Regions from separate parts of the Homo sapiens genome. Here region 2 is linked to region 1. The links come from fine-mapping of genetic effects on gene expression. Tissue or cell type: liver. Region 1 holds a variant in brackets; the other region holds the start of a gene. All regions are shown on one strand. Distances are between the middles of the regions.

The links. PIP is the estimated chance that this variant, and not a neighbour inherited with it, causes the effect.
Region 2: LRATD1 starts here. The variant in region 1 is fine-mapped to the expression of LRATD1 in liver (GTEx, PIP 0.96).

Annotation. Positions count from the first base shown.
Region 1 is chr2:14,573,382-14,583,588 of GRCh38, reverse strand. No RefSeq gene overlaps it. Among named protein-coding and RNA genes, the nearest start is that of LRATD1, 54 kb to the left of the region's middle. The variant C/T (reference allele first, on the strand shown) is at 5,322.
Region 2 is chr2:14,628,481-14,638,687 of GRCh38, reverse strand. It overlaps LRATD1 (LRAT domain containing 1), which reads right to left and starts at 5,971. Exons shown (of 2, transcript NM_145175.4): 1 at 5,751-5,971; 2 at 1-4,744. The coding sequence starts at 4,708. The coding sequence ends at 3,830.

The DNA.
Region 1 (10,207 bases):
GTCCAGGTATTTCAATCCTTTCCTTTAGAAGGGATTTAAAAATTATTTATAATAAGCTGTAGCTATTATTGTAATGAAGTGGTATTATCCCGGAAAAGTGAATATATATTATTTTTGTAGAGCAATCGTTTAGGAATCATAGTGTAGACAAATCAGAGGTTATTTCTCTTTACTGGGGAGGAAATCAACTCACAGGATGTTTCATAACTTTATTTCCCTCTCTTGTTGAATACATCTCTGGCTTCTTATAACATACATAAACCCTTGAGTTACATCAGGTGTTGGTTATTGCAGCGACCTCAAGACCGCACAGCTAGTGAATGGCAGGCTTGAGGCCAGAGCCAAATATTTAGTACCCAAGTCCTTTGCCCTTGGCACTGACTTCACTTTCTATCCAAAAAGATTAAAATAGTTTCCATTTAGGTGACTAAAAATAAATAAGAGCTCCTTGACTGGAAGGCTTTTAATGTACAGAAAATTTCTTTTCATGTTTGAGAAGCTTTAAGCCCCAATTTCATTCTTCTGTATGTGGGTATCTAGTTTTCTCAGCACTATTTATGAAAGAGACTATTATTTTTCATTGCAAATACTTGGCTCCTTTGCCAAAAATTAATTGGCCATATATGTACGGGTTTATGTCTGAGCTCTCTATATTATTCCCTTGGTCAAGTTATCTATTATTATTATTAATGTTTTGGCCAGTACCATGGTATTTTAATTACTATTGCTTTGTAGTATTGCTTGAAATTAGGTAATGTGATACCTCCAGCTTTGTTCTTTTTGCTCTAGATTGCCTTGGCTATTCAGATATTTTTGTAGTTCCATATAAATTTCAGTTTTTTTTTCTCTTTCTGTGAAAAATAATGTTGGAATTTTGATGGAAATTGCATTGAATTTATAGATTGCTTTACATAGTATGGACATTTTCAAAACATTATTTTTTTCAATCCATGAACACAGGATATCTTTCCATTTATTTGTGTCTTCTACAATTTCTTTCATCAAAGTTTTATAGTTTTCAGTGTATAGGTCTTTCACCTCTTTGGTTAAATTTATTCCTAAGTATTTTAGTTTTTGTAGCTCTTCTAAATGCGATTGCTCTCTTGATTTCTTTTGCAAATCATTTGTTGTTAGTGTATAGAAATGCTAATGACTTTTGTGTGTTGATTTTGTATCCTGTGACTTTACTGTATTTGATTATTAGTTCTAAAACTTCTTTGGTGAGAGTTTGTATAGTTTTCTATATATAAAATCATGTCATCACCAAACGGTGACAATTTCACTACTTCCTTCCCTACTTGGATACCTTTATTTCTGTCTCTTGCCTAACTGCTCTGGCAAGTTCTTCCACTACTGTTAAATAGAAGTTGTGAGAGTAGGCATCCTTGTCTTGTTCCAGGTCTTAGAAGTAAGGGTTTCAGTTTTTCAATAATGAGTATAATGCTAGCTGTGGGCTTCTCACACATGGCCTTTATTGAGTTGAGGTACATTTCTTCTATATCTAATTTGGTGACAATTTTTAATTATGAAAGAATTTAGAATTTTTGTCAAAAGCTTTATCTGCATATAATCAGATATATGGTTTTTGCCCTTCGTTCTGTTAATTATTTCATACCATATACAAAAATCAAATCAAAATGTATGAAAGACGTAAACATAAGACCACAACTGTAAAGCTGCCAAAAGAAAACACAGGGGGGGAATTACATGACATTGTATGGGCAATGATTTTTTAGATTTGACCCCAGAAGCACAGGCAATAAAAACAAAAATAGACAAATGGGATTATGTTGAACTGTAAAGCTTCTGCATAGCAAAGGAAAGAAATCAACAGAGTAAAGAGACACCCTACTGAATGAGTGAATATATTTGCAAATCATACAAGTCCTAAGGAGCTAATTATCCAAAATATAATGTATAAGGAACTCAAACAATTCAATAGTAAGAAAACAACACAGTTTTAGAAATGGGCAAAGGACCTGAATAGATAATTTTAGAAGAAGCCATACAAATGGTTAACAGGTGTATGAAAAGGTGCTCCACATCACTAATTATTAGGGAAATACAAACTAAAACCACAATAAAATCTCACTTCATGCTGTTAGAATGGCTACTATCAAAAAGAAGAAATATAAGTATTGATGAGTATGTGGAGAAAAGGGATCCCTTGCATGCTGTTGGTGGGAATGTAAATTAACACAGCCATTACGGAAAACTGTGTGAAGGTTCCTGGAAAAACTAGAAATAGAATTGCCATATGATCCAGCAATCCCATTTCTGAATAGTTACCCAGAAGATATGAAATCAATTTGGCAAAGGGATATCTGCACTTCTATGTTCCTTGCAGGATTATTCACAATAGCCAAGTTATGGAATCAACCTATGTCCATCAACAGAAGAATGAATAAAAAAAAATATGCTATGTACGCAAACCGGAATACTATTTGGCCTTAAAAGAGAAGGAAATCCTGATGTTTGTGACAACATGGATGGAACTGGAAATGTTATGCTAAGTGAAATAAGCCAGGCACAGAAAGACAAATGCCACATTCTCACTTATATGTAGAATCTAAATCAATTGAACTCACAGAAGCAGAGAGTAGGACGGTGGTTACAGAGGCTGGAGGGTGGGGTAATGGGGGACATGATGGTCAAAGTGTATAAAAACTTAGGAGAAATACATTTTTGGGTTATGTTGCACAGCATAGTGAATATAGTTAATAATAGAGTATTGTATATTTCAAAATTTCTGAGAGTAAATTTCGAGTGTTTTCACCACAAACAATCTTAACTATTGGAGGTGCTGGATATGTTAACAAGCTTGTTTTAATTATGCCACATTGTATTCATAACTCATAGCATCACTTTGTACCCTATAAATTTATAAAATTATAAATTGTCAATTTATAATTCAAGCAAAACAAAACAAAAGCTTTGAGCTGCAGGGCTGCCTCCTACTTTACAGCCAGGATGAAACCCTTAGCACAGAGCATGCTGGGAGGATGGAGAAGAAAGACGGACACCGTCGTGCTTTCCCAGGGCCGATAGGGTCTTTATTGGGATGTAATTTTCTATAGCTTTTTATTAATTAATATAACAAATGTTTATTAAGCATTTGCTCTGTGTCAGAAATGTTTAGGATATAAAGGAGTGAACAAAATGAACAAATAGTGCTGTCTCCTGGAGCTCACATTTTAACAATTGTCTTAGTGTTTTATTTCTATTAATATTCCTGTTAGAAGTCTGTCTTTAGCACCAATTATCTGAATGCTGTCTCTATAATAGATATTTTTGGTCGCAGAACAATTGCTACTCTTTACTGGAGGCTTGTAACATTCCAGACACCATGCTAAGCGAGTCATACATTATTCAATTTAAACTACCCATCTTTGAGGCTGTTCTTATAATTTTTACTCTATATAACCAGTACATGGTAGATCTAGAATTTTAACATAGGTCTGTTTGACTCCTAAAGCTATTCTCTTTACCACAGTCTACGCTAGTGTATCTTAATAATTGTTGTCTTAGATCAGAGGTTAAAAAAAAAAACTAAAACATGAAATTGCTTTATTTTTGTAACAGATAAATTCAACATAAATTAGCTTTCAAATCAGAAGAAAGCTATCTGTTCTTTAAGTCCCATTGTGAGGTGGTAAATTAGAAGTGTAAACTTCAGGATGGACAATTATGTCTATTTCAACACTTGCCTAGCTTATCATACATGGATGTGTTACTGCTGAAAATTATACAGACAACCATTATCAGCAATTGTCTTCAGTTCTTTGTACTTGACCAAGAGTATACAGTAGATCATATTACATGGTTAAAATGATTGCCACTAATTTTTTTTTTTCTGGGACAGGGTCTTACTCTGTGATCCAGGCTGGAATGCAGTGGCATGAGCTCATCTTACTGCAACCTCCGTTTCCCTGACTCAAGTGATCCTCCCACCTCGGCCTTCCAAGTAAGCTGGGACTACAGGTGCCTGCCACCATGCCAGGCTAATTGTTGTATTTTTTGTAGAGGTGGGATCTCACTATGTTGCCTAGGCTGGTCTTGAACTCTTGGGCTCAAGTGATCTGCCCACCTCAACCTCCCAAAGTACTGAGATTACAGGTGTGAGTCACTGTGCCTGGACTTTTGCCAATAGATTTTAATAATTATTGTATTTATCTTCAAAGGAAAGTATGGGTTGTAGCTTAAGGAAGTATGTATTCAAAACATTGGCTCCATACATATACTCATTGGGGCAAAAGAGTTAATAGTGGCTGATATAAATGTATGAGTTTATGCAGCTTTTCCTCAACTCAGGTCTTTGATAATACATATAGTCTTTGACTTCCAGTCTTCTTGTAACTTTCAAATGCTTACCTGTTTTCATAACTCTGTTTCGTTCTCTTTCCCTCTGTCCTTCTTGGATACCCTTCCTTCTGCAAATATTCATTATGGCTGCTCCATGTAACTTCTACAGCATTAGAAGTTCAAAGCTGGGGCCAGGCTTTATGATTACAACTACACTAGCTGTGATTTCAGCATGATTTTGAAAACCACAATGAATTCTATATGGTTAGAGAAAGCAATGACTACCATAGATGGATGTGCAAGCAAGTCTGATACAATGGGGAAATTAGAAAATAATATCGGGTGATATTAATATTAGAAGATGCTAACTATTGAGAGATTATCATATTCCAGGCAATCTTGCTAAGTGGTTTGTATAAATCATCTCATTTAATCATCACAGCAGGCCTATGTAAAAAGTAATTGATTGCTGAGAGAGGTTCAATAACTTGCTCATGGTTTGCACTGCTTGCAGATAGCCAATCAGAATTAAAGTCCATGTAATTTTATTTCTAGAATTAGGATTCTTCTCTAGTATGTGATAGGCTCAAAGATGGTGAGGAAGCCTTCACAGAGGCAACACCGCTGTACTTAAGTAAAAATTTCTACTGACACTTCAATCCCATTTACATCACTTTACCATTTCGGGTGTAACTGGATAGCATCAAACATTCCTTATTTAATCATATTAACTAAGCCATATAGCATAAGTAATTATAATTAGTTATCTAATCAAACAGTTGTAATGACTGAACTTTACATATTCCATGTCTTAGCACCATTCAGATTTGTGCACATTTCACTACAGCCCTGTTAATTTTTTCTTCTCACTACCAAAGAATGCTTAGATTTGATTTAAAAATCATCTCTTGCTTCTTGTATTGTGCCTCAGATTCTAGGATTGTAACCAAAAAGCAAATATATGAGGTAAAATTTTATGATTTTTTCAATCAGGAAAATCATAGGTCATGAACAAAATG[C/T]ACAGGTATTTGAACAAAGTCTTTAGACATCTTGGTCTTTATCATGAAAGCTTTTATTATGAAGTCAATTAGAGACAATAATCTATTTGGCCTAACCACGTATACCCATCATGTGCCCAAAGCTGTGACTCATCTTCATTGTTCTTTTACATGAATTAAAAAAAGGTGCTGCTTCTGAATTGGTATTCAGCTAGGCAATGGGAAGAGGATTTGCTAGGGAGAAGCAGGCATTGCTTCACAGAGGTGGATGCAGCCCTGAGCCAGGACACAAACTTGGCAGGTGAAGAGAGGGATGAATTGCAGCCCATACTTGCCAACAGAACGGGAACATCTGTGAAGTAAACAACCATGCACATTGGTTCTGTCTGCCTGTCGCTATAGTGGAAATTACAGGTAGAACGCTGAATACCATGTATTCCTTTCTTATGGCCTTAAGACCATCTGTAAGGTCGGTAGTGAGGAAACTGACTGAGAGAAGCTGAGAGCACACAGCTATTAAGTGTGGGAGCTAGGATTTAGACTGAGGTCTGATTAATTCTAAAGTCTGGCTCATTCTCTCTGATACACAAATACCTTATTTCTGCTCTGAAAGAATTTCCAAACTTGTGGGTGGCATAATTAGCCCTGATGAACAAAAAGCAGCAAGTAGAATCCTGTTTCTTGTGCACATCAAACATTTTCTCATCTCTTTGCCTTTGTTTAATCTCTTTCTTCTACTAGGAGTTCCCTTTTCTTCTCATCTTCATGTATTAAAATCTTGCCTATTTTTAAAAATGTCAATAAAATACTACTCTCTCCATGAAGCTTTCCTTGATACCCTTTTTAACATGAAAATAATCTCCATCCTCAAAATCACCAAAGCACATTCCTTACCACTCTGATGGAACTGACCTTGTTGAAACTTTCATATGGCTATATGTGTACCTGCCTCTTTTTTTGCCCCTGTAATGGACCATAAATTCTTAGATGCTGATGTCATATAAAAACTTTTTATCACCACTTCTTGGCACAGTATAGGAGCTCAAGATTTTCGTAACTAAATAAATCAATGATTGTATAAACGATTGAATGAATAAACCAACAATAATTAAGACTTATTTTCAATAAAATGATGGGCGAACCACTAATGCTGCTGGAAATAATGGAAAAATCTTGATAAGAGAGTTTTGAAAATCTTAAATAAAGAGCTAACATGATGTTACCAGCTGAACTGAATCCCCCTCAAATTTGTGTGTTGAAGTCTTAATCCTCAGTACCTCGGAATTTAACTTTATTTGGAAACAGGACCACTGCAGATATAGCTAGTTGTTAAGAAACTAGAGAAAAGCAGTGCATTGCCTACAGAAGAACAACAATTAGAGCGGCAGTAGAGTTATCATCTGAAATCATGGAAGCCAAAAGAAAGTGGCACAAAGCATCAAGTGCTAAAAGAAAAGAACAATCAACTCTGGATTTTATATGCAGCAAAAATACCCTTCAGGAATGAAGGGAAAATGCAAGCCTCCTAAGATAAAGGAAAACTATGAAAATTTGTTGCTAACAGAAACATCCTTAAAAAAGACTACAGGTGGCTGGGTGCAGTGGCTGAGGCTTGTAATTCCAGCACTGAGGCTGAGGTGGGAGGATTGCTTGAGCCCAGAAGTTCAAGACCAGCCTGGGCAACATAGTGAGACCCATCTCTACAAGAAATAAACAAAATTAGTCAGGTGTGGTTGGTGCATGTCTGTAGTCCCAGCTACTCAGGAGGCTGAGATGGGAGGATCCCTGGAGCCTAGGAGGTCAAGGCTGCAGTGAGTCGAGATCTCACCACTGCACTCCAGCCTGGGCGACAGAGCGAGACTCTGTCTCAAAAATAAAATAAAATAACAGCATGGCTGAATCCCACATTCCACGCAGAACCTATCTCGCTCTTTATATCTTAGGGTTATTGGTAGGTTTAGGATTTTTCTGGTCATCTGATTCCCACACGACAGTTCTCCAGGTGGTCTTGAACCAACCCAGTTTCCCCTTTTCTTGTTTGTAGTTTTCAACAATAACTGTAGAATGTTCTGGGAATGCACATCCTGATATAAGCAGAAGCTGTCTGGAACAACCTGGGTTCTGTTACAGTCCCTCCCAGAAACAGGATGTCCTTCAAAGCTTTAGCACAGTGTGTCATGTTCCCTGGGGTATAAACCCTGGGGCACTTACAGAAGAGGCTACATCTGCCCTGGGCAGCTTTCCTGAGCCTTGTCCTGAAGCAAGCTTGCCCTGAATCCCGGTTTCTGTGGTCCCTTGCTACCTATTTGTAAGTAATAAACCTGCTTTCTATAACTTGGGTATTTGAGCATTCTGTCTCATCAGACTCTTGCTCCATATATGAATTGTGTTATTCCTCCAGAATAAAGAAGCAGTAGCTGCAGCGGATGTCTTATTTATTAAGCATTTTTTAGTTCCCGCTAAGACATCATACACAGCCCTTTGATACATGTCCCCTACTTCCCTCTCATTCTCTGTGTGGGGCATCCTGAATGGTATTTAGCATCTGTGTGGCCCTGGTCGTCTCTGAGCCTTTGCCTCTTTTCTTCTCTTTCCTTCCGGGGAACACCTTATTACCAATCTCTTTCCCAGTTAACACCTTCCAAAAGTCAGTTTTTAGGTTAATTCCTTCACAGAGGCATCCCTGATGCTCTGGATTATGTTAGATGTTCTTGGAATGTGCCTTCAAAGGATCATGTATTTCACTTACCATGGAAAACATCCCATTCATTGGAATAAGCTGCTGGCTCCCCAGGGGCAGGAGCAGTGTTATCTTTGCCACTGTCAACCTGTGTCAGGTACACTCTTCGTGCATCATAAAAATCAATAAACATCTGCCATAGAAATGAAAAACAAGTTTATGATTCTTTTCTGAGAGGTTCAGAGGAAGCTTCACTGTCCTCTGCCAATAGTGAATCAATGATCACCAATCACTGATGGACTGTATTTGGTCCCATATTGGATAATTTCTTTCTTTCTTTCTTTTTTTTTTTTTTTTGACGGAGTCTCGCCCTGACGCCCAGGCTGGAGTGCAGTGGCGCGATCTCGGCTCACTGCAAGCTCCGCCCCCCGGGTTCACGCCATTCTCCTGCCTCAGCCTCCCGAGTAGCTGGGACTACAGGCACCCGCCACCACGCCTGGCTAATTTTTTGTATTTTTAGTAGAGACGGGGTTTCACTGTGTTAGCCAGGATGGTCTCGATCTCCTGACTTTGTGATCCGCCCGCCTCGGCCTCCCAAAGGGCTGGGATTACAGGCGTGAGCCACCACGCCCGACCCATATTGGATACTTTCTAAGTCATTACCCATTTCTGCTGTACTAATATTCTTCTGTGCTAGGTAATTATTATTTTAAATTCAGGAGAAAAAAATGCAAGAAATGAAAAAACAACCTACTGTTTCTTAGTTTCCAAGAAAAATAAAAACAGAAGATTTAAGCCTCCCCTATTAGATTAAATCATTTTTCTAGGACATGCTAATTTAAGCTAGGTTGTAAAATATTCCAATTACTACATTTAGCAAAGCTATGTAGCATGAATTTTCTGTCACATTTTCCTAAAATGGGCTTCATTTATATCCTATTTTACTTTGCCTCATTTGATTTAATTGTTCTTAAAATATTCTACATTCTTCTACAAACTTATATCTTGAGGGCATTGCCCTCATGCATAACAAATTTGTTTTTTACAATCTTAAGGATAAAAGAACCTCAACCCCATTATTTCTTTCAAAAATCTTTGATGAGATATTTTAAAAATGTATTTTGTTACTTTTAAAATGCTATAATATCATAATACCATGCACTCTTTGAAACAATTTCCAAGTTATCTATGATTTTAAGGAGTTTTTATAAAATACTGAGAGTTTAAAATTCTTTAGATCACAAAATTATTTCAGATAACTCATGTAAGCTTCACAGCTACCTCAATCAATATGAGAGTGCTGTCACTTTTATCCACGTTTTACAGGGGACAGCATGGTAACATGTAGTTTTAATCCAAGATTCACATTTGTGATTTTCTTTGATATGTAGAACACATTAAAAATAACAACAATAAGTAAACTCTTCAGAAGATATAGTTCTGTTAAGCACATTTATGAATGAGAGATAAAAACTTCAGAGCATAGTAGCTGAGTCCTTACAGTGCAAATGTACTGAATACTTTTAGGTTCCTTTGCCATCAAATTAATCATTTGGCTAAAGTGGAAAAAATATGAGTCGATCTTCACATTTAAAGTTGCTCTTATCAACCTGCAAACAGAACATTCAGTTAAAAAAATCATTTTTAAAAGAGTCTATAATAAAAAAAGATAATTATGGGTTTGAAGCATCTCAAATTACAGAATTCCATAGAATTTTGGAGCAAAAAACACTCTTTCAAATCTGCTAGTATTCTGAACTTTGAAAGAATTACAGTATTCTAATGCTTTTTAGAAGTGCTGTAACCTGAGTTCCCAAGTACAATGACATATTTTGGTTCTGATGCATGAGGAAATTTTTATCAATTCTGAATAAATGAAAAAAAAGTCAAATTTTTATAAACTCAGTTATATTAAATTTAAAGAATTTAATGTTATCTAAGATTTTAATTGTTTCATGTTTTTAAAGTTCAAATAATATTTTCTCATTTTATTTGGAGAAATAAAAATTGACAATCCTATCTCAGCCTCCTCCTCCCCTTCTCTGAGTGTGTATGGGAAATTTTATTAGTCTGTGATACCAAATAATTTGAGTTCAGGAATTTTAGCCACTGCTGCTGCTGCTGGAAGTATAGATGGATTAGGTAAGGGCTAGAAGTGTTCAACAACTTGCTCTAGGTCTCGGCTTGGAGCATGGGTCCCCTGACTCCCAGGCCAGGTCTCTCCAGC
Region 2 (10,207 bases), 55 kb before region 1:
TTCATTGAAGTTTGACCCTGTTCCATGTATTAGATGACTAAGACATTTAACTCTTAGGGATGTTGAAAGCGCACCACAAAACATAAGTAATCAATAAAGTAATGTTTGAAGACTTTTAGTATATACTGCTTATTCAGGTAATTAATTATTTTGTAAATACTAATAGCATATTTTTCCAAGAAAAATAAAAAAGCCATGTTCTAACAAAAGTGTTCACCACAGAAAAATTAAACATAGGGGAAGGTAAACATTAAAGTTTCAAAAAAACAGGTAAATCATACAGCTGCTTCTGTGCTTGATGTTCTAATCTGGCACAAGTGTTTCGTAACTATAATATACGTTATTATTTTTAAAAAATACTGTCATGACAACAGCTTACATTATTAAATATTGAGGAACACTTTATATCAATTTAACTCATACTTAAAAATGTAACATACGTAAATTCTATAGTTTTTTTTTTTTTTTTTTTTTGGAATGTACTTTGAGAATAACAGCATTTCAGGACTGGTTTTGTTTAAAGTATACCCAGCCCCCCTCCTTATTTTATTTGATTTTTGGTTTAAATAAAAATGTAGCAAAGCACTCTTTGAAGTAAAAGTACCTGTCTTTTCTTTTTTCTTTTTTTAAATCATAGTTTGTTTTACCTGAAAGTTGAGAAAGAATGCAGTATAAATATAGCTTTTCTCTACACGGGAGCAGGGGGAACAGAACCAATCCCCAGCTTAGCCACACCCAACATCATGGAAATTACTGTGAACCTGTTGTCTCTTGAGGACAACTAAAACCAAAACGAAATCCCTAACATTATTAAAATGTTAGGAAACTTTTCAGGTAATTGCTGTAACTCTGGTAAAATACAGAAAGATTACATTCACTCATAATAAAAATCAAGTGTGCCCACGCCATCTGCAAAGGGAACTTGCACCATCTTGGTTTCACTCGCATTGTTAACAGTGCCCTAAAAGTATACACCTTTTTCAGGATAAAACCATTAGGTAATATCTTGATCATATCCTCTGCATGATGAACTATCACTCAAATTATTCTGTCATGGGTTACCTTACTAACACTGACAAAGAGATAATAAATGATAATTTTAACAGGGATAGGAGAAACCTTGCAAACCTTTCAAGTTTCTTTCATAACTATTGTTTTATTATTGCATATTTTTAGAGGTATTATCATCAACCTGATCCTTTATAGGCCAATATAGTAACAAATGCTAATTTAACTGCCCAGCTCATTTTTATTGTCAGTCTAGCCTCAGCAAGTATAAAACTGACAAGACATTCCTCTATGAGAGTGACCCTCTTAGTGAGAGAGAAATCTATGTACCATCAGAGGAAATAAATCTTAGTATTCGGTGTGATAGAGACTAATTCATTTCTTTTGATGAAGTCCCACTCTTTGAGTGACTTTGAAGGGGGAGACAAAATGTCAAGAAGGAGTCCTGCAGGAACAAGTGCTTAAGATGGTGTTTAATACAGCAGGGAGCCAAGATACAGTAGTAGGACACAGTAAAGAATGTGGAGTGTGTAGATACAATAAAGAATTCATTTTATGATCTGCCACCTGTTACTTGAAAGAGGAGTAAGTTAGGGAAATAAATGACTCAGTTCTTCATACATGCAAAGGTAAGTTAGTTATTACAAAAGTTTTTGCTGTTGTTTGTGCTGAAAGAAAAGCATATGCATTTAAACATTTTTTAAAAAATAAATCACTCAATAGGCTTAAGAAAAATACTTTAGTTCATAGTTCATTGATCTGACGTTTTGATTTAAGATCAGGGGATGAATCCAGGATGAAAACCAAAGAAAAAAAAAGAAAAAGAAAGAAAAATATAGAAGTGAATCATTTACCATGAAAAAGGCATTTCCAGCCTCAGCTAACCTCAACTAGTTTTTATTGCATTATTTTTGAAATGCCAAGAAACTGGCTTTGGCCATAATACTTGCTGTCCAACAAAATCACAGCTGTTAATATGCAATTGCTTGCAACAATTAGCTAAACAGCATTATTTGACAAATTCCCTTGAAAGAGACATAGATGCTATTTAAGTGTCTAGCACACTGAATCAAGTAACTATCAGTTAGGCTGGGGCCGCAGCTGGAGGGAGGAGAGAAGTTTACAAATCCTTGTCCACAGAAGGTGTTTCACACCCAGCCTTAAGTTTTTGAAAAACACACATTTGTCCTGATCCTACAAGTTCATCATCCCTGTTTTCAGGAAGAACTGAACTGTGGAACTGGCCAAAGAGGAGGGGGAAAAAGCCACCAACTCTAGATTCATTTTTAAGGAGATCAGGAGGAGAGGAAGAAAAATAGAAACGCGTATGTGAAATGGTAATGATATACAACATGGAGAAAAAAATAAACATCGTGGAACCTGCTAGCAATTTCCACCAATTTCCACCAAAGCAGTGAACCCCTTAACTGACAGAAATTCAGTACAATATACACATTAATTAACAACTCCACCATTACTAGGGCTGCTGTTGAAAGCCAAAAAATTAACTACAATATTGAAAAACAGAATGCTTACAATATCTGAGAAAAATAGAGTGAAAAGGCAATGTTAGCTAAGCTCTTAGCTACATCCACTCTTAATGGCCCCCAGTATTTAAACTATCATGGATTAAAGCCATGAAAATAAAAATTTCAATTTGAAATTTTATTAGCCTGTTGCTAAAATGGTCAATAAAAACATCAACACGATAGGCTTTGTTGACATAGTTGGAAAACTGCTCTCTCATTTTTAAAACTTTATTTCCACTTCCCCAGCTTTGAAGATTTCTATGTTAGGAAAAGCCAAACTAAATATACTGGCTATGGTGTTGTAACAATGCTGGTTTCTGGAATGGTGCCATGTCCTCCCCCTCCCTCTCCTCCAACTCCTTTAAAAATATGACTATTTTTGAAATGCAGCCCGAGGAGGGAGCAATCAAGGGTTCAGAACAATAAGCGCCCTTCACACATTCAAGTTCCCAGACACCAGGTGAACGAGCGAGCTCCTTGTCGGGGGCGGGGCCGGCTGTCCTCACCGAATTCGCAGCGCCATCTTCCTCCCGGGACCGGGCCGGCTTCCCTTCTGCCAGCGAGGGAGACTCGCAGGCAAAGGCGGGTGGGGGTGGCGTTCGCTTCCCACGGTGGAAAGAACCGGAGGCAAACACTGTCTGGCTTAGCCCGCAGCCTGGAACACAATGTCAGGAGACCTGGGGCTGGAGAGCTGGAAAAGTCCCGGGCAGCCTCAGGATAACCCGGAATCCCGAAGTGCTGTCTTGGGGAATTATTCCCAAGTGCACAAGGGACAGGCTCGATTTCTTGGAAATCCTGCGATCTGGGGACGCATCCACAGAGGAGCTGAACTGTGCCCTGTAGAGACCAGTTCTCGCCTCCGACCGGTCTGTGTGCGCACGCTCGGGGCGGTGATGGTCCCTTTTGAGAAGAGGGTTGTTTTCGAGTCGGGCCACAGTCACTGGCCATGGACTCGCGGGGAAGGCCATGTCCTTTCTCCCCTCAGCCCCTTCCCCGTTCCCGGTTTACATCTCAAGGGGAAAGCGCACGCGGGGTCTCCCAGCACCGTCACCACCGCTGTGGCTGTCAGCCAGGCGCTCGCAGCGGCGCCCTTTCGGCCCTGGGGCAGTTCCTGAGACTTCCTGCCGCTGGCTTGGGGATGCGGGGGTGCAGCCCGGGCCCGGGCCACCGGCGGCGGACGCGCGTGGCGGGGCGGGGCAGAGGTTGAGAACCGCTGACTGCGAAGTCCGGGTGCGGGGAAGGGAAGGGAGCGAGGTGCGGGGGAGGCAGAGGGGCCGGCAGCCCCTAGGCGGCTACTCCTTGTCGTCCACGAGGTCGGCGAGCTCCTGGAGCACTCGCAGGCGGCCGCTGGCGTCGATACGGCGCTTCTCGCGGATGAGGTCTTCCAGGCTGTGAAACCTGGCGGTGTGGACCTTGTTCTCTCCCAGGTGCACCTTGAGATAGTACTGCTGCTGCGGGGGCTGCGTGCCTGCCGGCACCTCCCCTCCCGCCTTGAACTCCCGCTTGCCAAAGCGGCACCAGGCGGCGAAGCTCTCCGAGTTCGTCCAGCAGATCTCCTCGCTCTTGAGGCCCAGGTGGCCGCAGGCGTTCTGCACCACCAGCTCGGCCACCAGCGGGCGGTAGCGGTACCAGCTATTCACCACCCGGCCCACGTTGGCCGCGCCCGCCTCATACAGGCTGTCCTGGCGGATCTCGCCTTGGTGCAGGTGGATGATCTGCCCGCCGCCCACGTAGACGGCCCAGTGCGGGGCGGGCGCGGGCGGCTCCGGCGCGGGCTGCAGCCACAGCAGCTCCAGCAGGTCGCCGGGTTCGCAGAGCGCTGGCAGCGCGGTGACCGCGTAGACGCTTAGGTCGGCGCCCTGAGGGCCACCGCTCACTTTGGAAAAGATGCATTCCTGGCCCCGAAAGGCGGAAAACTGAGTCTCGTTGAGGACCAGCTGGTGCAGCAGGTGGTGGTGGTGGCGGCTGGGGCTCTCCGGGCAGGGGGTGCAACCCGGGGGGGCCTTCACGCCAAACTTGTCGGGCTGCCCGCGTTCGTCCAGGTCTTCCTCATCATCCGAGAAGAAGTAGGCAACCCCGACCCGCAGTTCGTCCTTTTCAATCCCCGACGGGTCCCCTGTGGGCAACTCGCTGTAGTTGAGGTGGGTGATGCGGTCCAGTTGGTTGCCCATCAATGAGGTGGCGAGGCGAGGGCCAGGAGCGGGGATCTGCGGAGGCACAGAGAGGCAGAGACACCGTCAGAGTCCGGGCTGCCCCTTTCGGTGTCCCTCCCCAAGACGTGCAGTGCCCCTGGGACCTGCCGGCTAGCTTACGTGCCCTCACCGGAGTCACCCTTTCCAGCCGAGTCCTCCGTGCCTCCCCAGGGGTACGAGGGGCGGAGAAGCCGCCACAGGTCAGGCGAGAGCAGACGCCACCACACAGCCTCCGACCCCTTCCGGGAACTCGGTCCAACTCCCAGAAGAAAACACCCAGGCTGGCTGGAGAGCTTGCGGGGTCCCGGTGGGGAGGAGAGTGCTGGCTGTGGCAGTGTGGGAGACGGACACCCAGGAAGGACCGAGGGGTGGGCTGAAAGGGAGAAGGGAGCCTAAGGCCAGTGAGCTGGGAGCAAGCTCCCATTTCTGTCCCCACCCTCTCCAGCCCACCTCCCAGTTTTGCACTAGGTTGCCTTCCTCCCCTTACAGCGGCTCGCACAATGACAATCAGACACATTCTCAGGCATTCACTTGACACCAGCAACATTTTGGACACTTGGGAGTCCAGACACTGGCAGCCTGGTATACTGGTGTATGTCACATACACCCACAATGACAAACCTTCGCGACGACACACTGGCACACTTAGACCCCACACATTCGTACACAATTTCAGCTCCACGCTTGCACGCTCGCCGTTGCACGTACGCCCAAGCACCCGGGCACACCTGCCCTCACAGGCAGGTGCACTCTGCCCCTTACTTCTCTTGCCTTGTCCCCATCAGGGCCAATGGGACTGCGCCAGGGCGAGGCTGCTCTGTCTAAAATAACCTAACAAAGAGGCAGGGGAAGGATGGAGAAAGCCAGTGCAGTGTATGTGTGTGGGTGTGGGTGGGAGCGTGTGTGTGTAGAGAGGTTCACTTTTAGCCCAAAGACCCCTCTCCCTCCTACCCAGCACAGGATCCAAACAATCGGATGAAGAAAAACCGTTTCCAAGGCAAAGAAAGCCGCTTCTCCCTACCCGTGATTTCCCTGCTCCCGAAACCCCAAACTCCTTTAAAGTCTCCTGGTCCCCATGGGTGCTGAGGAAGCGGCGGTGGCGAGTGGGTCCTGGGCTGCGCGTGGGGCTGCGGCTCCGCTCTACCCCGAGCCGAATCGTGCGGTGCGGCGCCCGTGCGCCTCCAGGTCTGCGCTGGCCGGGGCGCCTGCTCCCACTGGACAGTCCCGGCTCGGCTCTGCTTTCCCACCGCCGCGCCGACGACTCTAAGTAGCCGGAGCAGCCGGTCCCAGGGCCCGCCCCAGGACGCGCTCATTGGTTGGGGCGGGTGCTCGAGCTGTGTCAATCTTCGCCGGCGGGGGAGGGGAGCAGAGGCGGGCCTCCTGTGCGCTTTGCTCTGCTCCGCTCCGCCCCGCCCCGTACCCCGCACACCCGACCGCGCGCCGCCCCGGGGAGCGGAGGTGTGCGCACCCGCGGGGGGCGCGGCGCTTTCTGCCAGGTGCCGATGCCCGCTTGCGCCCGCGCCCCCCAGCTCATCCGAGCTGATTGTGACTGAGAACACAGCCCGCCCGCGTTCCGTGTTCCAGGAAGACAGACTCCAGCGGGGAAGCTGAGTCTGGGTATGGAGAAGAAACCCCAGGGCACCCCAGTATGGCCCAGGCACTGCGAGCGGCCCGGGGCAGGCAGCGACATTGCCCGAGGCGGGCGTCTGGGCCCTGCTGGGATCCCCCAGAGCCTTGGTTCCCGATGGCCCCTAGGCTGGTCCTTGGATCGAAGACCCTTTTCGTTCCCCAGACGTCTTTGAAATTGCTCCTGCGACGTTTGGCTCCTCTTCTTTGACTGGAGTGAGGCTGCTGACCCAGAGCTGATGCCCGATTTAAAAGGAGCTTGGTGTCAAATGCCACCCAAAAGCCTGAGCTTTGGCCGGTGCATTCCCTGGCTGTGCCTATGATATTGGCCTCCAATTTTCTGAATATAGGAGGAGTACCTCACAACTCATGTATGTGAGTTCATACATGCAAGCAGAGAGTAGGATGTAAAAGTGTTTTCCAAGCCTCAGAATTGGGATTGCTAAGCAAGTTTTGTTTGGTTTTGTGGGAAAGGAGGCTCCAGCAGTAGTTAATGATTACATTTCTGGATGGAAAGTTAATGAATGAATGTGTTCTGAATATTGGATGCTGAAAAAATGAACTTCATATATACAACATTCCAGACCAATAGTTTCAAAAGTTCCTAACATTAAGCCTCAAAGAGTTCTTAGACATCTGGTTCTGGCCCCAATGCTACTCATCTTTAAGCCTGGGCTCCAGCAGCTTTTCTATGAAGCCTCTTTTCTTTCCCAATGAGGAATTTGATACTTCCTATTTGAACCCCCCACCTCTTCCCTACAAAGCGAATTCCTTGAGAATAGACTTTGCATTCTGCACAACCTTGTATTCTGGGCCTCTTTCCCAATGCTAGTCATGCAGTGTGTTCCATCAGTAATAGTAAAAATGAAAACAGCCTGTATTGACCACTTATACGTGGTCAGACACTTAAGAGTAAATTAAGTAGACAATTTAATCATTATTCCTCTGTAGGGTACTCACTAATATCCGAATTGTAACAAACAGGGAAACAAAAGCTCCAATACTAGTACCAGCAATCCATCCAAGCCTACGGGATACCAGATCCAGTCTTTCACTAAGTTATAGTGTTTATTGAATAAAATCTTGTTTCATAAAATGAGAAAACTGGTGTTTCAGAGAAGTTAGATGATTGGCTCAAGGTTACATGGAGACTGATCCATATTACAACCCCCTTTTTCTTTGCTAGACTTTTCTGCTTGAATATCTTCAAACCGCCAAGCCTCCAGTTTATGTTTGCTTTCTGAAGGTCTCTGTACACCCCCACAGCCTCCAAATGCAGTGATTTATCAAATTAGATGCTAAAATATTGCTGGAAAAAATGGTTTTAAATGACCATCGGTATACAATTGATGTACCTAAATCTTTTTGGAAATTTGGCTATTGTCCATGTGCATGCAAGTTATCAGAAAACAAGTTGCCATTCGTGGAACTGACCACAGGTTGAGATGGCCTTTTTTATACTTGCCATAAGTAATAAACAACTCATTTTGGCCCTGAAGTCAAGAGAATTGAACAAGTAGCTTTAGAGATAAGGAGTGAGTTATTGGTCTTGTTATAAACTGGACTTCAGGGCTGTCTGGGATGAGGGTATCTGAAGAGTTCATTGTTGATGTCTGAGAAGAACTCTTTGAAAGCAACTCAGCGTTTGAATAACTTAAAAAATATCCTCCCTCCATCCCCAAGATCAAGCCTTGTGCACAGACATTTACAACTCATTTGTTGTGTTCTGCCCTACGTGTTCTATTTCATTCTGCTCCAGACTACAGAGTAAGCAGGTCGTTCCTCTTTGTTTAGTATTCCAATACTATAAAGCATAATTAAGATAAAATGTTGTCAGTTATTGGAGATATAGTGCCTAAAGTTTAAAATTTTTGGCCTCTCCGTTTCCTCTCATTCCCCCTGCTAGGCTAAACGGCTAACTGCTTTTGTAATCACATGGGAGAAAAAATACCCTGGAGCCCCCTTGAAACATAAGGCAGGGAACACATTGACTGTGAGGCTTGAAATAAAGGGAGCTAAAAGTAAACTAAGGAAAATACATCTACACTTTGTCTTCTTTTGGCACTTACCAGATAATAAAGTAAGACAATCAAATGAAGGATGCTGATTGTAGAAAATGTTTTATGTTCATCACAAAATATTGTTTTCAAATTGTTTTGACTTTTATTTTTTACTCCATCCTGCCTGCTTTTACAATGAGAAAATACAGTGCTGTCCAAAGTAGAATATAGTTGTCCAAAACACAAACTCTGAAAGCCAACTAATTTAAACTCTTTTTCAACATTTATTGCTGGGTAACCTCGAGTCCGTTATTTAAACTTTGTGGGCATCAGGAAACTTCCTTATCTGTAAAAAAGAGATAATAATAGTGGTTACCTCACTGAATTGTTGTGAGTTCATACATGTAAGCATAGTGTCTGACGCACAGTGAGTTTTCAATCAAGGCTATCTTATTATTATTCTTGGTGGAAGAGAGAGGTCTCATACCCTACTTGTTTAGGACAGCTGTGCAGTTCTCTTTCTCCTTTGCCCCAGGCTAAAGGTAGCAATAGATAGTGTCCAAGGCTTTCCCTGATTGGGGTGTAGGACTGCTTCTGTGTTAAGGTGGTGAGATCCCTGCCTATCCTTCAAATACTCTGAGACCTAAAGCTCTCTATAGATTTCAGCATGTGAGCCCCTGGGCTGATCATGTGGTAGCAGGGAGTGGGGTGGGGGTTCCCTGAAGGATTTTTAATTGTTTTAAATGAACATTTCCGGTGTGAGGAATTTGTGTGGGGAAAAAAGTTACAGGGGAGTGATTAGGAGTCAATCAAATGTATGTGATCTTTTCTGCTGGTGCCATCTGATGTATCCTCTCTCTCTCTTTTTTTTTTTTTGTTTTTGGTTGCTTCTTTGGCACTATTTGAAAAGCTTTACTCCAAATTTTACTGAACAGGTCCTTGGCTCAAACTGTCATCCTTTAAAATTGGCCTTGGAGCTTGGAGTAAGGGTTCAGGAAAATTATATGCCCCACTTTATCCTTTAATGAAATGAACTGTTCCATCTCCTGTCCTTCACTGCCTTAGGCAGTTAACATACTCACCCTGGTCTGAGCTAAAGAATACTCTGTGTCCATCTGGATTAGAGATGGTTATATGGCTTCACCAATCCCATTTCCCTTCCTTCTGGGCACCCAGCTAAATGACAAGTCCCAGCATGCCTGCAGTCATTTGCCCCATGCCCTGTGACTGAGTTCTGGCAAATGGAATGTGGGTGGAAGTAGAATAAGCCACTCCCAGGTGCCGCTCCTGAAAGCTCCTGAAACTGAAACTATTATTAACACAATCTTCCAGAGCTTTCTTTTGCCAATTTGGCCATTTGTAGAGGATTCATGGTAGGACTCCTAGGATCTAAGAGATGGAGGAGCCACTAGATGGAAGAAGGCCGGAGCTCCTGAATGACTGTGTAGAGCTGATAATTTCCCCTCCCAAGAAAACTGCATTGGACTGTGAAGAAATAAATCTTCTTGGGTTAAGCCACTCCAAAATTGTGTGGTTATTTATTATAGCAGTTAGCCTGTACTGACTGATATACTGTCCTTCATTTTAGACCTATCTCAGAACAATAAAAATCTCCCCCACTTCCCCCGTCCCCACACACACCTCCTACCTCCTTCTCTCTTTGTATCTGTTCTCACTGCCAAGGCTAACTTGCCTGAAATCCCTGCAGCATTTCAGCAGGTTCACATCACCTAGAATGTAAAGAAATCACTAATGAACACTTCTCTCCCCTCTAGGTACTACCCCATATCTCCCTACTATTTGTTCTAGAAATTTTCACAGCTTCCATGTGACTAACTTACCCAGCTCTCTG